Linked DNA regions of Homo sapiens: region 2 is linked to region 1. The links come from fine-mapping of genetic effects on gene expression. A gene starts in region 1. The other region holds a variant in brackets. All regions are shown on one strand. Distances are between the middles of the regions.

Region 1 (9,063 bases):
AGTTCAGAAAAGTTCAGAAAAGCCAGGATTTGAACCCACATTAGCAGTCAGACTTGGTTACTGACACCGAATCAAAGTGACAAGAAAACAGCTTAAGCAGAAAACAGCTAATACCTAAAAATTTCGAACTACTTTCTGTGGTTCACTGTGGCTTGGTCATGTGCACTTGAGATCAAGTACACATGTGGGACAACATCTTGGGTAGAACTAGGGTCAGGATATTGATCTAGGTAACTAGGGAAACACACCTGCCCCAAAACAGCAAGTTCATACTCTTACTTCCTGATTTTGTATTCACTTAATTGTATCCATGCATGGTTCAAGAGCAGATGCAAGGGTCTTCTAGAGAGACACTGTAGCTTAAGAGAGGAGTACTAGCTTTGGAGCAAAACAGATTTAGATTCACATCTTCACTTGGCCATTCACTAGCTATTTGGCTTAAGACTATTCTAAATACTTAGCATCCTCATTTTCAGAATGAGGATAATACTCATCTTGCAAAGTTGCCTGAGGAATAAATGGGATAAGGTGGGTAAGTATTTAGCAGAATACCTGGCTCAGAGTAATAGCTCAATAAATGGTAAGCTGTTTTTAGTTAAGTGTGACACCTATGGTTTTAGTAAAACAAAATTATTCAGGTAAAGCAGCAGCATGTTAAAATATTTTTTTAAATGATATCTAAATTTGCACTTAAATTTGTCAATTCTGATGACAACTATTACTCTTCAAAGTTAACTTTTTCAGGCTGGGCGCAGTGGCTCACATCTGTAATCCCAGCACTCTGGGAGGCCAGGACGGGCAGATCACCTGAGATCAGGAGTTCAAGACCAGCCTGGCCAATACGTTGAAATCCCATCTCTACTAAAAATACGAAAATTAGCCAGGCATGGTGGTGCACACCTGTAGTCCCAGCTTCTAGGGAGGCTGAGGCAAGAGAATCGCTTGAACTGGGGAGGCGGAGGTTGCAGTGAGCCGAGATTGCACCACTGCACTCTAGCCTGGGTAACAGAGTGACACTGTCTCAAAAAAAAAAAAAAAAAGTTAACTTTTTCATAATATAAAACATTAAAAAAGCTGAGAGAAAAATCTGAAAACTACCGAAAAAAAGAGAAACACATATACCATAATTCTACAACCCCTAAAACACATTTTGTTGAATTACTGAACACTTAAAAAGCCATCTGTAGGCTGATGATGCAGTTGGGGAAAAGAGGAGTGTCATTCTGACCATTTCTCTTTCTCTGTATTTCATCAGCCTGTTTGAATTTCCAGAGGACAGGCAGGGAAAATGCTGGGGAAAACAAAAGTACAAGAGCCAGTCAGTTTTACCTTTCTTTTTGGGAGGCAAGTTTTCATACTGGAAAAGTTTTGAACTACCTGAAAACTTAGATTTGAGAAGAAAACTTAGATTTGAGGATTATTTGTGGAGTTTATTCTCATTCTCTTCCAGACTCATTACAAAAGATCTGAAAATTTGTTGACGATTTGAGAACTGCAGATAAATATGAATTTATCTTCTCCACACCTGCCCACTAAAAAATTACTTAGAAACATTATTACAAGGAAAGAAACAAAATCAAGCAAACATCTAATGCATTAGATGATTAAAGGATACATATTACAGCCTAAGTTGGAGAGAACATTACCCAACAAATGGCTTTTTTTCCCTGGGAGCTTCTACTGTGCAAGTCTGGGGATCTCCAGACCAGAGAAAAATCTTCCAGTTTAAACAAAATAACGAAAATGTTCCAATAACCAGATAACCTATCAAATAACCAGAATTTGAAGTGGGAAATGAAGGGCCATATCAATGGGGAGGAAAAATGGCACTGGTAATATCTAGAACAGAAAATAAACAGGAAATACTTTAAAAGGCCAAAATTTGCAAATACAGATTAACAGGGTATGAAATGAAATACGAGGCAATGCACCTGTTAAAGGAAAAAGGGGAACAGAGGATGTTTGAAGTCTTACGTATTTAGTGTTAACACTAATTCCTGATCTAGCTGTCATGTGGAAAGCATGCTGTCCAGAAGAAAACCTGGGTCCTGGCTTATTCCAAACTACACAGTACTTAATTTAAGTAGTAGTACTTAATCTCTCTCAGTGTCTTAATCTGTAAAATGGATACCCTTTATGTACTCACAGCTCTGTGTGAGTCACAAAAGAATTTTGAGCAGATGCTTTTTAACTCCAAAGTGCTGTACAAATCAGAGCATCCCTTTTCTCTTCACATTAGTTTGACATGGAATTTACTTCATAGATGGAAGAAAAATTATTTCAGGTACACTGATGATGAAAATGTGCCGAACGTGGTTAAACAAATTTAGGTGAGGACAATTATATAAGTTTACCTGAGAGGCCAGGCGCAGTGGCCTCACGCCTGTAATCCCAGCACTTTGGGAGGCTGAGGTGGGCGGATCACCTGAGGTCAGGAGTTCGAGACCAGCCTGGTTAAGATGGTGAAACCCCGTTTCTACTAAAAATACAAAAAAATAGCCAGGCGTGGTGGCGCACGTCTGTAATCCCAGCTACTCGGGAGGCTGAGGCAGGAGAATCACTTGAACCCGAGAGGCGGAGGTTGCAGTGAGCCGAGATCAAGCCATTGCACTCCAGCTTGTGCAACAAGAGTTAAACTCCGTCTCGAAAAAATATGTTTAGCTAAGAACAGATGAGTCTGAAGCAAGGGACTGAAAGTGCCACACAAATGGGCAAGCTGTAGAAACTGGTCGTATGAGGATTTCTTACAAACCACAAAAGCATATGCTTACATGAATATTCATCAATAACAAAAAAAATGCCACCAGTATTAACTGTAAACCACTTAGAAAATACCCAACAATATAATTTGTCCAAATCCCTCTACCAGCATTCCGGTGAGTGTGCGTGCTGTAGTCCTAACTCTTCTGTACATTACGACAGGACAAAACCCGCTTTTTATAAAACGTTTAGCAACTCGCCAAGAAACTGGCACACTTTACCTTTTTAATCGCTAAGCAAACATGTAGCACAGTTGAGATAACCAGGCGGACGTTCAGCCCTCTTCAAAAATAAGACACAGAAGTTTTACATTTTACCAGCCCGATGTCTAATACCGATCACAAGCCTCTATTTGATGCTCTTTCTAGATGTTGGCCACGGATCACGGAAGACTCCATTCTTTCAAGTTCTGAGGACTTTCTACGCTTCAATTCCTAAGCTAAATTGCCAAGGTTTTACTAGCACGAAAGTTTAAAGTCAACGGAGAGCGTGCCCTAATCCCTAAATCGATTAGGTTTATTACACGGCACCAGCGAGCAGGGACTGGAAATACAAGAGCGAGCGGGTCCTAACGCAGGTTGCCGCGGGACCCGACGCCCCGGGCCCGGACACCCTCCCCGGGGACGCGGGCGCGGCGGGCCCGGCTCCCAGACGGGAGGCTGCAGGGGGAGGGGAGGGAGAAGGAGGGAGGGGGCGGCCCCCTCGGGCCGGACCGCGGCCCGGCCTCCCTCCCGGCCCGCGCCGCTCGCCGCGCTCACCGCGTTCTTCTTCTGCACCATCTTGTCCATCTTCTTGGCAAAGCGGACCACTTCGTCCTCCATGGCTCCGGCAGGTCTTCTCCGCGCCCACCCCGCTGGCAAGGGGAAGTGGGCGAAGCTGGAGCGGAAGACACAGCAGGAGCGACCCCCGGCGCGCAGCAACCCCCACCACCGCAGGCCCGGGCCTAGGCCCCCTTCCTTACGAACGAAGCCCGCGGCGGCGGCGGCGGCGGCGGCGGCTCCGGCTCCTCCTCCCCAGGCAGCGACAATCGAACACCGCGCGCGACGTGCAGGCGCTACCAACTGACTGCAGATCGCTGGTGAGGGGCGAGCCCATGTTCCCGCCAGGCGGGCGTCGGGCTAGTGGGCAGGCGTGGCTTCCGGCTAGAGGGTCGTGGAAGGCGCCCGGTTTTGCTGCGCGTTCACCTCCGGTCCCGCCCCCTCACGGGGCGGGTTTTCGGCCCCCTATTGCATCGGGACATCCCGGAGTTTTAGAACTCGCGGAGGCCCAAGTATCTCGAAACGGGGGCAGATTCCGAGCATGGAACTTTGGCAGGTTTTAAAGTCTGTGGGAAGCCAAGCACTTTCTCCATAGGAGACTGCTACGGGGAAAAATGGAACCCGTGTCCTCTAAGTTAGGTTACGGAGTTACTCGTTTTAAGAGTTCCTTTTTTTTTGAGACGGAGCCTCGTTCTGTCGCCTGGCTGGAGTACAGTGGCGCGATCTCCACTCACTGCAAGCTCCCCCCCCCGGGTTCAAGCGATTCTCCTGCTTTAGTTTCCCGAGTAGCTGGGACTACAGGCGCCCGCCACCACGCCCTGCTAATTTTTTGTATTTTTAGTAGAGACAGGGTTTCACCATGTTGGCCAGGATGGTTTTGATCTCTTGACCTAGTGATCCGCCCGCCTCGGCCTCCCAAAGTGCTGCGATTACAGACCTGAGCCACTGCACCCGGCTAAGCGTTCCTTTTTTTAAAAAAAATCGGCCGGGCGCGGTGGCTCATGCCTGTAATCCCAGCACTTTGGGAGGCCGAGGCGGGCGGATCAACTGAGGTGAGGAGTTCGAGACCAGCCTGACCAACATGGAGAAACATCGTCACTACTAAAAATACAAAATTAGCCGGGCGTCATGGCCTGTGATCCCAGCCACTCGGGAGGCTGAGGCAGGAGAATCGTTTGAACCCGGGAGGCGGAAGTTGCGGTGAGCCGAGACTGCCATTGCATTCTAGCCTGGGCGACAAGAGCGAAACTCCGTCTCAAAAAAAATAAAAAATAAATAAAGGTGAAATCGTTCGTGAGCTCCTGGAGTACTAAGAACCAGTCTTGGGCATGGCATTTTGAATAGTTGAAGAACAGTTGACGGAAACCTTCTGGTCAGAAATTACACAAGGCATCCCACCAGCTTCTGAGGATCAGAGAGGAAGGTGACTTAAGTTGTGACAGGGTTCATAGTGGAGAATGCAGGCTCCTCCAAAAAGTCTTTCCCCACTTAAACCCTTCACGACCAACTCATGCTATTTGCAGGTATAACTCCCACACCACGTAACTATCATTCATCAAAATACACCGCCTAATAATGTTCTTTCTATACTGAGATGACAGGTTTTTCCTGGTTATGACTCACTCATTTGGGGGAGAAGTATTGGGATCGTTTCCCTATTTTGTTTCATTTTTAAATTATCTTTTTATTATTGATTTCCAGCTTAAATTGTAGTATTTGTTGAGATTTATTTTGTCAATTTTTTTTTTTTTTTGACACGGAGTTTTGCTCTTATTGACCAGGCTGGAGTGCAGTGGTGCCATCTCGGCTGGCTCACTGCAACCTCCACCTCCCAGGTTCAAGCGATTTTCCTGCCTCAGTCTCCTGAGTAGCTGGGACTACAGGCGCCCACCAGCACACCCGGCTAATTTTTTGTGTTTTTAGTAGAGACAAAGTTTCACCATGTTGGCCAGGCCGATCTCGAACTCCTGGCCTCAGGTGATCCGCCCACCTCGGCCTTCCAAAGTGCTGGGATTACAGGCGTGAGCCACTGCGCCCGGCCTATCTCGTCAATTTTTATGCATATCTATGTGTTCTAAAAAAGAACACACAGAAAAAAATTGTTTTCTACAGAAAATGTTGCAATATTTACATCCCTGTTTGCTGTCTGCTTCATGCCTCAATTAATGAGTATGTAAAAATTTCCCTTTATAATGTGGATTTGTACATTTATTGTAATAATTCTGTCATTTTTCTTTTTTCCCAAAGAATCAGTTGATGTTTTTCTTTAAAATACACATAACACAAAATTTATCCATTTAACTACTTTTCTTCTTTTTTCATGCTACCTTGTCTAAGACCATTTTTAACTATTTTTTTAGATTTTAATTCATTTTATTTTATTTTTTATTTTTTTTTAGACGGAGTCTCGGCCTATCACCCAGGCTGGAGTGCAGTGGCGTGATCTCGGCTCACTGCAACCTTTGCCTCCCAGGTTCAGGCAATTCTCCTGCCTCAGCCTCCCAAGTAGCTAGGATTACAGGTGCCCACCACCACGCCCTGGTAATTTTTGTATTTTTAGTAGAGATGGGATTTTACTATGTTAGGCAGGGTGTTCTCAAACTCCTGACTTCAGGTGATCTGCCCACCTCGGCCTCCCAAAGTGCTGGGATTGCAGGTGTGAGCCACCTCACCTGGCCTGTTTTAGCTATTTTAAAGTGTAAAGGCCTGGTGTGTGCATACCCAGTGTGCATGGGATACAGCAAAGGCAACACTCAGATGGAAATGTATAGCTGTAGATACCTATGTTTAAACATAAAGATCTCTGGCTGGGCGCAGTGGCTCACACCTGTAATCCCAACACTTTGGGAGGCCAAGGTGGGCGGATCACCTGAAGTCAGGAGTTCGAGAACAGCCTGGCCAACATAGTGAAACCCCGTCTCTACTAAAAATACAAAAATTAGCTGGTCCTGGTGGTGGCCGCCTGTGATCCCAGCTACTCGGGAGGCTGAGGCAGGAGAATCGCTTAAACCCAGGAGGTAGAGGTTGCAGTGAGCTGAGATGGCGCCACTGCACTCCAGCCTGGGTGACAGAGCAAGGTTCCGTCTCAAACATAAATAAATAAGTAAATATAAAATAAAAAAGTGTACAATTCAGTGGCATTTCTAATGATAACAATATAGTGCCACCATCACCACTCGATAGTTCCCAAAAGTTTTCCAAAAATGTTCATCACCTCAAAAAGAAACCCAGTATCAATTAAGCAGTCACTCCTGATTCCTTTCTCCCCTCAACCCTTGGCAACCACTAATTGGCTGCCTCTATACTCTTGAATATTCTGAACATTTTATATATTTAATAAATAGAATCCTAGAATATGTGACCTTTTCTGACTGGCTTCTTTCACTTAGCATGTTTTCAAGGTTCACCTGTGTTGTAGCCGTGTCAGTACTTCATTCCTTTTTATGGCTGAATAATATGCATTTCCTATAGATAACATTTTTAAAATTCATTCATCACATGATGGACATAAGCATTGTTTCCACCCACCTTTCACTACTCCACATTTTCACTCTTGTGAATAGTGCAGCTATGAACATGCCTGTACAAAGTTTTGTGGGAACACCTGTTTTCAGTTCTTTTGGGTGTGAACCTAGGAGTAGAATTGTTGGGTTTCATGGTAATTCTACATTTAAATTCGAGGAACTGTCCATCTGTTTTCCACAGCAACTGCAACATTTTTACATACCCATCGGAAACGTCATTGGGCTCGAACTTCTCTGTATCTTTGTCAACAATTGTTGTTGTCCTTTATTTTTATTTTTATTATTTCTTTTTTGATACAGTGTTTCGCTCTTATTGCCCAGGCTGGAGTGCAATAGCGTGACCTCAGCTCACTGGAACCTCGACCTCCCAGATTCAAGTGATTCTCCTGCCTCAGCCTCCGGAGTAGCTGGGATTACAGGTGCCTGCCACCATGCCTAGCGAATGGTTTGTATTTTTAGTAGAGACTGGGTTTCACCATGTTGGCCAGACTGGTCTTGAACTCCTGACCTCAGGTGATCTGCCCACCTTGGCCTCCCAAAGTGCTGAGATTACAGGAGTGACACACTGTGCCCAGCCTGTTTAGTTCATTTTTAGAATTCTAATTATCTGATGAGGTATGAAATGGTATCTCATTGTGTCTTTGATTGGCATTTTCCTAATATGTTAAGCATGTTTTCATGTGCTTGTTGGCCATTTCTGTGGTTTCTTTTTTTTTTTTTTTTGAGATGGGGTCTCACTAACAGAGTGACAACAGTCCAGGCTGGATTACAGTGGCACAATCTCAGCTCACTGTAGCCTCCACCTCCCGGATTCAAGCAATTCTCCCACCTCAGCCTCCTAAGTAGCTGGGATTCCTGGGGAGCACCAACACCCCCGGCTAATTTTCGCACTTTTAGCAGAGATGGGGCTTCACCATGTTGGCCAGGCTGGTCTGGAACTCCTGACCTCAGGTGATCCACCCACGTCGGCCTCTCAAAGTGCTGGGATTACAAGTATGAGCCACCTCCCCCGGCCTTCTATGGTTTCTTTAGAGAAATGTCTATTCTAGTCTTTTGCCCAATTTTTAACTGAGTTGTGTTTATGTTGTTAAGTTGTAAACGTTCTTATATAATTCTGGACTCTAGAGCCTTGAGATAAATATGCTTTTCAATCATTGTCTCCCTTCCCATTTTGTGGGTTATCTTTTCAGTCTTTTTTTTTTTTTTTTTTTGAGACAGGGTCTCACAGTCGCCCAAGCTGAGTCCTGTGGCGTGATCACAGCTCATTGCAGCCTCCACTTTTTGGGTTCAAGCAAATCTCTTGCCTCTGCCTCCTGAGTAGCTGGGACTACAGGCACACACCACCATGCCCAGCTACTTCTGGATTATTTGTAGAGAGAGGGTCTTACTATGTTGCCCCGGCTGGTCTCAAACTCCTGAACTCAAGCAATCCTCTCGCCTCGGCCTTCCAAAGTGCTGGGATTCCAGATGTAGGCCACCTCGCCCAGCCTCTTTTCAGTCTCTTGATATTGACCTTTCATGCACAAACTTTATATTTTACCAAAGTCCAATTCATATATTGCTTTTGTTACTTGTGCTTTTGGTGTCAAATCTCAGAAAGAGTTGCAAATCCAAGGTCATGAAGATTGACCATTGCCATTTTAACAACATTAAGTCTATCAATTCATTACAACGGGATATCTTTCCATTTATTTAGATCTATTTTAATTTCTTTAAGCAATATAACATAATTTTCAGTGTGCAACTCTTGGCTAAATTCACCTCATTGGCTAAAATTATTCTTGGTATTTTATTTTGTTATTTATTTATATTATATTTTATTAATTTTTATTTTATTGAGACAGGGTTTTGCTCTGTCACTCAGGTGGAGTGCAGTGGCACAATCATACCTCACTACAGCCTCAATGTCTTGGGCTCAAGAGATCCTCCCACCTTGGCCTCCCAAAGTGCTGGGATTACAGGGATGAGCCATGGTTCCCTGCCCTAATCTTTTCTTTTGTCTCTAATTAATCTTTATTATT
Region 2 (9,063 bases), 71 kb before region 1:
TTATATATGCTATATAGGATATAGTATATACATTTATATATGCTATATAGGATATAGTATATACATTTATATATGCTATATATAGGATATAGTACATACATTTATATATGCTATATATAGGATATAGTACATACATTTATATATGCTATATATAGGATATAGTACATACATTTATATATGCTATATATAGGATATAGTACATACATTTATATATGCTATATATAGGATATAGTACATACATTTATATATGCTATATATAGGATATAGTATATACATTTATATATGCTATATATAGGATATAGTATATACATTTATATATGCTATATATAGGATATAGTATATACATTTATATATGCTATATATAAGATGTAGTATATATATGCTATATATATGATATAGTATATATATTTACATATGCTATATATATAAGATATAGTATATATATTTACATATGCTATATATAAGATAGTATATATATTTATATATGCTATATATATGATAGTATATATACTATATATAAGTATATATGCTATATGTAGGATATAGTATATATATTTATATATGCTATATATAAGATGTAGTATATATATGCTATATATAAGATGTAGTATATATATGCTATATATATGATATAGTATATATATTTATATATGCTATATATATGATATAGTATATATATTTACATATGCTATATATAAGATAGTATATATATTTATATATGCTATATATATGATAGTATATATACTATATGTAAGTTATAGTATATATATTTATATATACGATATATGATACAGTATATATACATATGCTATATATAAGACAGTATATATTTATATATGCTATATATAAGACACAGTATATATTTATATATGCTATATATAAGATACAGTATATATTTACATATGCTATATATAAGATACAGTATATATTTACATATGCTATATATGATACAGTATATATTTACATATGCTATATATGATACAGTATATATTTACATATGCTATATATGATACAGTATATATTTACATATGCTATATATGATACAGTACATATTTACATATGCTATATATGATACAGTACATATTTACATATGCTATATATGATACAGTACATATTTACATATGCTATATATAAGATACAGTACATATTTACATATGCTATATAAGATACAGTACATATTTACATATGCTATATAAGATACAGTACATATTTACATATGCTATATAAGATACAGTACATATTTACATATGCTATATAAGATACAGTACATATTTACATATGCTATATAAGATACAGTACATATTTACATATGCTATATAAGATACAGTACATATTTACATATGCTATATAAGATACAGTACATATTTACATATGCTATATAAGATACAGTACATATTTACATATGCTATATAAGATACAGTACATATTTACATATGCTATATAAGATACAGTACATATTTACATATGCTATATAAGATACAGTATATATTTATATATGCTATATAAGATACAGTATATATTTATATATGCTATATAAGATACAGTATATATTTATATATGCTATATAAGATACAGTATATATTTATATATGCTATATAAGATACAGTATATATTTATATATGCTATATAAGATACAGTATATATTTATATATGCTATATAAGATACAGTATATATTTATATATGCTATATAAGATACAGTATATATTTATATATACTATATATAAGATACAGTATATATTTATATATACTATATATAAGATACAGTATATATTTATATATACTATATATAAGATACAGTATATATATTTATTGGTCATTTACAAAAACTTGGATTTAAACATTTGAAAATATATATCCTTCTCAAGCAAACATGAAACAGTTATATTTTAAAAATAAAAGTATATTATATAATATACGGTGGGTGGGCACGGTGGCTCACACCTGTAATCCCAGCACTTTGGAAGGTCAAAGCATGCGGATCACCTGAGGTCAGGAGTTTGAGACCAGCCTGGCTGACATGGTGAAACCCCTTTTCTATTAAAATACAAAAATTAGCGGGGCGTGGTGGCAAACGCCTGTAATCCCAGCTGTTTGGAAGGTTGAGGCAGGGAGAATTGCTTGAACACTGGAGGCAGAGGTTGCAGTGAGCCAAGATTGCACCACTGCACCCCAGCCTAGGAGACAGAGCAAGACTCTGCCTCAATCAATCAATCAATCAATAAAGGGAGAGGGAGAAAGAAAAAGCTATAGATGCTTGCCAAAAATTTAATGGTATATAAGTAAAGAAAGTGGTCTAACCTCTAAGAGAGTAAACACTGTTAACACATTTCTTTTTTTTTTTTGAGATGGAGTCTAGCTCTGTCACCCAGGCTGGAGTACAGTGGTGCAATCTTGACTCACTGCAACCTCTGCCTCCTGGGTTCAAGCGATTCTCATGCCTTAGCCTCCCAAGTAACTGGGATTACAGGCGCCCACCACCATGCCCAGCTAATTTTTGTATTTTTAGTAGAGATGGGGTTTCCCCATATTGGCCAGGCTGGTCTCGAACTCCTGACCTCAGGTGATTCGCCCACCTCGTTCTCCCAAAGTGCTAGGATTACAAGCGTGAGCCACTACGCCCAGCGTGTTAACACATTTCTTTAAGAAATGACCTGGAAGATTTGAAAAGAAATAAAATAGAAGTTTTAAAAATCAAATATTATTGTTCAAATTTTAAAAAAATTGATGATTGAAATAGAAGATTAGATACAACTAAATAAATAATTAGTGAACCTGAAGGTATCCAAAAAGACCCACGTAACAAGGAGATTGAAATACAGTTTGAGTTTCCCTTATCCAAAATGCTTGGAACTAGAAATGTCTCAGATTTCAGATTTTTTCAGATTTCGGAATATTTGCATTATACTTACCAGTTGAACATCCCAAGTCCAAAACTTCAAATTATTCCAATGAGCATTTCCTTTGAGTGTCATGTCAATGCTCAAAAAGTTTCAGATTTTGGAGCAATATGGATTTTAGATTTTTGAATTTTGGATGTTCAACCTATATAAAAATAAGTTAAAATAAATGGAGGATAGAATGATAAGAATTGACATTAATGTTTTGTTTTTTTTTTTTTAGACAGGGTCTCATTCTGTCACCCAGGCTGGCATGCGGTGGCACGATCTTGGCTCACTGCAACCTCTGCCTCCTGTGTTCAAGTGATTCTCCTGCCTCAGCCTCCCGAGTACCTGGGACTACAGGCATGGGCCACCACACTTGGCTAATTTTTGTATTTTTAGTAGAGACGGGGTTTCACCATGTTGCCCAGGTTGGTCTCAAACTCCTGAGCTCAAGTGATCTGTCCACCTCAGCCTCCCAAAGTGCTGGGATTACAGGCCAGAGTCTGTTTTTATCCACTAATCTATACTTCTTCCCCATACTAGCAGTAAACAAAATAGACTTTAAAAAATTTTAAAGCACTTTAGAGACAGAGCAAGTCACTACTAGAACGTTAAATGATTTAGCTTACTAGGAAAGTGTAACAACTTGTATGTACCTAATAAAATAATCTCAAACATCAAAAGCAAAAATTGCTAGAGCAAGACATTTACAAATCTGCTAACGATAGAGGGAGATTGCCACATTCCTTTCTTAGTTACTGATATTTCTAACAGATAGAAATTTTAGACAAATTATAGAAATTTGGGCCAGGCACAGTGGCTCCTGCCTGTAGTCCCAGCACTTTGGGAGACCAAGGATGGGGGAAAGCTTGAGTCCAGGAGTTTGAGACCAGCCTGAGCAACATGACAAAATCTCATCTCTACAAAAAAATACAAAAAAATTTAGCTGGCTGTGATGGTGCGTGCCTGCAGTCCCAGCTGCTCTAGAGGCTGAGGTGGGAGAGTCAATTGAGCCCAGGAGGTTGAGGCTGCAGTGAGCCATGATCACACCACTACACTCCAGCCTGGGCAACACAGTGATACCCTGTATCAGAAAAAAAGAAAAAGAAAAAAAGAAACAGGGAGAAATTAATTAATAAGCTATATTTATTGGTCATTTACAAAAACTTGGATTTAAACATTTGAAAATATATATCCTTCTCAAGCAAACATGAACAGTTATGATAACTGACCAAGCATTACCTTATAAAGTATCTCAATAAATTTCAAGGAACATAATTAATCAAACTGTACTGACACCAATATAATTCAAATAGAAGTTAGAAATTAAAAAATAAAGCCGAGCACTGCGGCACACGCCTGTGATCCCAGCACTTTGGGAGGCCGAGGCAGGCGGATCACCTGAGGTAGGGAGTTTGAGGCCAGCCTGGCCAACATGGTGAAACTCCGTCTCTACTAAAAATACAAAAATCAGCTGGGGGTGGTGGCAC[C/G]CACCTGTAATCCCAGCTAGTCGGGAGGCTGAGGCAGGAGAATCGCTTGAACCCGGGAGGCAGAGGTTGCAGTGAGCCGAGATCGCGCCACTGCACTCCAGCCTGGGCAACAGAGTAAGACTAAAAAAACAGAAATTAAAAAGTGAACTAAAAATCCTCATATGTTTGACATTTATTTTATTTTATTTTACATCATTATTATTTTTTTGAGACAGAGTCTTACTCTGTCACCCAGGCTGGAGTGCAGTGGTGCAATCTCGGCTCACTGCAACATCTGCCTCCCGGGTTCAAGTGATTCTCCTGGCTCAGCCTCCCGAGTAGCTGGGATTACAGGCACATGCCACCATGCCCAGCTAATTTTTTTTTTTTTTTTTTTTTGAGACAGAGTATTGCAGAGGTTGTGGTGAGCCGAGATCACACCACTGCACTCCAGCCTGGGCAACAGAGCAATACTCTGTCTCAAAAAAGAAAAAAGAAACTTAATGTTGGGTGGAAAAAGCAAGTTGCAGAAGACAACATATAGTCAACCATTTTGATAAACTTAAAAAAAAAAACTGGCTGGGCACAGTGGCTCACACCTATAATCCCAGCACTTCGGGAGGCCAAGGTGGGTGGATCACCTGAGGTCAGGAGTTCCAGACAGCCTGGCCAACATGGTGAAACGCCATCTCTACTAAAAATACAAAAAATTACCCGGGTGTGGTGGTAAGCACCTGTAATCCCAACTACTTGGGAGGCTGAGGCAGGAGAATCACTTGAACCCGGAAGGCGGAGGTTGCAGTGAGCCGAGATCGTGCCATTGTACTCCAGCCTGGGCAACAAAGAGAGACTCTGTCTCAAGAAAATAAAATAAAGAAATAAAAACTAAAGACTACATTTTTCAGGATTACATACATACATTTGAAACTATGGAAACAAGATAAAAGAGATATTAAGGATCATTATTAAGCTATGTTTTCTGATCTCAATATAATTATGACAGAAGTAAGAATTAACTCAAAGGGGTAAGCCCAAAATCAAGTATAGCAGTTCCCTAGAGGACAAAGCCAAGAGACAGTAGCAAGTAGAAGTAGCACGAAAATAAATGCAACATTATCAGTGCTGTTCTGGTTCTTAAGGAAAATGGCGCATTCATAAGTGTTCATTTACACTAGAGACTCGGAAAGGTGGATGGGAGGGTGGGAGATAGGTAAGGGATGACAAATTACCTAATGAGTACAATGTACACTATCCCATTGATGGCTACACTAAAAACACAGGCTTCACCACTGTGCAATATATCCATGTAACAAAAGTGCACTTGCACCCCCTAATTATAGTTTTTAAATGTTTATAAGTTTTTTATAAAGTGAGCCAGACGCAGTGGCTCACACTTGTAATCCCAGCACTCTGGGAGGCCAAGGTGGGCAGATCGCTTGAGCCCAAGAGTTTGAGAGCAGCCTAGGCAACATAGTAAGACCTGACTCTACAAAGAATACAAAAAGTTAGCTGGGCGTGGTGGCACGTGCCTGCAGGGTCTGCTACTTGGGAGGCCAAGGAGAGAGAATCATATGAGCCTAGTAAGTCGAGGCTTCAGTAAGCTGTGATCACACCACTGCACTCTAGCCTCAGCAACAAAGTGAGACTCTGTCTCAAAAAAAAAAAAGTGTTCATTTTGTTGTCACCTTTGGACAGTACAGCGGTGGCATTTATAACTTGCACTTATACTACATATATTCTCTTTCTCAAATATTATATAATTTTAAAATATATTAAACAGACACTTGCTCTATTGTTCCAGAGGTTTAATGTTGTCAAATCTGACTTAGTTCTGTCGTAGTACAGAACTCATCACAGATGATTAGGAAGTTTTGGGTCAGATGGTTGCAGGATTTTTCTTTACATTTACAGTTTTTAAAATATTTCAAGATGTGCCCATTTGTAAACAAGCATGTTCTTAGCATTTATTCTAGCAACTTGGTTTGCAAGCCTTTTGGTATGCAATCCAGCAAAAAATTTGAAAGTATCATATTCATGTGTTTTTCCCAAAGGTTTGAGGAAATGCGAACAGTTCTTTCCCTTCCTAAAAGGGCCTAAATGCATATATTTTTCATTCTTGGAGGAGGAAAAGATATGTTCCTAATGATGAATTCCAATTAACTACCACTAACAGTTCCCTTTTGCCCCCTCTCTTTTGGTCTCCACGAAGCCCTGCTCCTACTCTGGAAGAAGTCAACGCCTGGGCTCAGTCATTTGACAAATTAATGGTCACTCCAGCAGGAAGGAATGCATTCCGTGAATTCCTCCGAACAGAATTCAGTGAGGAAAATATGCTCTTCTGGATGGCCTGTGAGGAACTGAAAAAGGAAGCTAATAAAAACATTATTGAAGAGAAAGCAAGGATAATCTATGAAGACTACATTTCTATACTTTCTCCTAAGGAGGTATGTGACCACGAGATGCCTTTTCCCAAGGCTGTTGGTAAAATTAACTTGGTGCAAAAGTAATTGCCATAGGCCGGGCACAGTGGCTCACGTCTGTAATCCCAGCACTTTGGGAGGCTGAGGCGGGCGGATCACCTGAGGTGAGGAGTTGGAGACCAGCCTGACCAACATGGTGAAACCCCGTCTCTACTAAAAATACAAAAATTAGCCTGGTGTGGTCATGGGCGCCTGTAATCCCAGCTACTTGGGAGGCTGAGGCAGGAGAATCGCTTGAACCTAGGAGGCAGAGGATGCAGTGAGCCGAGATTGTGCCATTGCACTCCAGCCTGGGTGACAACAGCAAAACTCCATCTCAAAAAACTAAACAAAAGTAATTGCCTTTTTTTTTTTTTTTTGAGATGGAGTCTCACTCTGTCGCCCAGGCTGGAGTGCAATGGTGCAATCTTGGCTCACTGCAACTTCTGCCTCCCGGGTTCAAGCAATTCTCCTGCCTCAGCCTCCAGAGTAGCTGGGATTATAGGTGCGCACCACCAGGCCTGGCTAATTTTTGTATTTTTAGTAGAGACAGGGTTTCACCATGTTGGCCAGGATGGTCTTGATCTCTTGACCTCGTGATCCACCTGCCTTAGCCTCCCAAAGTGCTGGGATTACAGGCGTGAGCCACCGTGCCCGGCCTCGCCATTACTTTTAACTTTTTCCAGAAAAATGCACAAAATTTTTCACCAATTTCAGAGGACATTTGGAGCCGCTCTGCAGGTCCACAGTCAAAGGGATCTGAATACCGTGAATGCGGGTGCAGCTGTTTTCTACATTTTGCAGTTGATGTTCTGGGTCAAGCTGAACATGACCAAACAGCTGCACCCACATTCACGGTTTTCAGATCACTTTGACTGTGGACTTGCAGAGGGCTCCAAGTGTCCTCTGAAATCTGTGAAAAATTTTGTGCATTTTTCTGGAAAAAGTATCCCCTGGAGTCTCCATTTGACACTGAACACTGTTTACAAATATTATACCCTAAGACGTTCCTTTAAATAAAATTATCTTGTTATTCTGAGAAAAATCTTGTATTTAGGTATCTTGATGTTATAGAGCAGCAGCATCACAGATGTGATACTGATGCTGAAAAGGTTTTCCCCAGGCTGGCTTTTTCATTCAAGAAATTATCAGATGAATGAGATTGGGCAAGTTTCCACCTGTCAGTGTTTCAGTTTCTTCAAATCTAAAATGTAGGAGGCCAGCCCTGGCACAGTGGCCAACTTCTGTAATCGCAGCATTTTGGCAGGCCGAGGCAGGTGGATCACCTGAGGTCAGGAGTTCGAGACCAGCCTGGCCAACATGGTGAAACCCCATCTCTACTAAAAATACAAAAAATTAGCCAGGTGTGGTAGCATTCATCTGTAATCCCAGCTACTCAGGAGACTGAGGCAGGAGAATCACTTCAACCCGGGAGGCGGAGGTTGCAGTGAGTAGAGATTGCGTCATTGCACTCCAGCCTGGGCAACAAGAGCAAAACTCCATTTCAAAAAAATAATAATAATAAAATAAAATTTAGGAGGTCAGATTGTTCTCAAATTGGGTGCCTTGTAGCTCTAATTATAAAACTATTAGTTATTTCCTACTATGTGCCGACAGGAATGTCAAGTTGAAGAAGCAGGGCCTCTCCTGTCATGGAGCTCCTGGAGATGTGGGCGGACAGACCAGGACCCCTGGCCACACTCTCAGCACTCACTGGGGCTCGGGGGTGAGCCATCCACAAAGGGGTGGGCGAGAATGAGAAAAATACTCAAGGAGGCTACAGATGGACCAAGGATAGTGAAAAGGAAATTTCCACAAACACAGCAGGATGGGGACATCCCAGGAGACAGGACCAGGCGAGCCCAGGGGAAGAGCATGAAGTTGTGTGATCACTGCAAGTATACACAGATTGTGCCAGAAAGGGAGGGTGCTTACCAAACTATTAGGGCTGGGGGCAGGCAGCAGGAGGAGACTTAGAGAAGGGGTAGTCGGAGAGCATGGAGAGGTTTGGGCATCATGGCGAAGTGTCTGGATTTTTATCTTGGGAAGCCCTTGGATTTTAGCCTGTTTATATCATCAAATTTTGATTTTTGAAAGACCAGTAGGGCTGCAGAGTGAATTTGGAGAAGACCAGGGGCAGAAGACGTTAGAAAACTAATTCAGGAGTCCAAAGGGACATGGTGAGGGCCTAGCTAGGCCAGCTGAAGACGCTAGAGAGGAAGAGTCGGATTTGAGGCAAACCCCACCGTCTC

What was found. PIP is the estimated chance that this variant, and not a neighbour inherited with it, causes the effect.
Region 2: its variant is fine-mapped to the expression of TCEA1 in whole blood (TOPMed, PIP above 0.99).

The regions. Positions count from the first base shown.
Region 1 is chr8:54,018,545-54,027,607 of GRCh38, forward strand. TCEA1 (transcription elongation factor A1) reads right to left here and starts at 3,904. Exons shown (of 10, transcript NM_006756.4): 1 at 3,519-3,904. The coding sequence starts at 3,581. All of the region lies in intron 12 of LYPLA1-TCEA1 (LYPLA1-TCEA1 readthrough), which reads right to left. LOC133039971 (Uncharacterized LOC133039971) reads left to right here and starts at 3,489. Exons shown (of 3, transcript NR_189620.1): 1 at 3,489-3,838. RefSeq lists silencers at 3,353-3,522, 4,650-4,957 and enhancers at 3,643-4,436, 3,693-3,842, 4,437-5,228.
Region 2 is chr8:53,947,515-53,956,577 of GRCh38, forward strand. RGS20 (regulator of G protein signaling 20) reads left to right here. Exons shown (of 5, transcript NM_003702.5): 4 at 6,562-6,796. Among named protein-coding and RNA genes, the nearest start is that of TCEA1, 70 kb to the right of the region's middle. The variant C/G (reference allele first, on the strand shown) is at 4,374.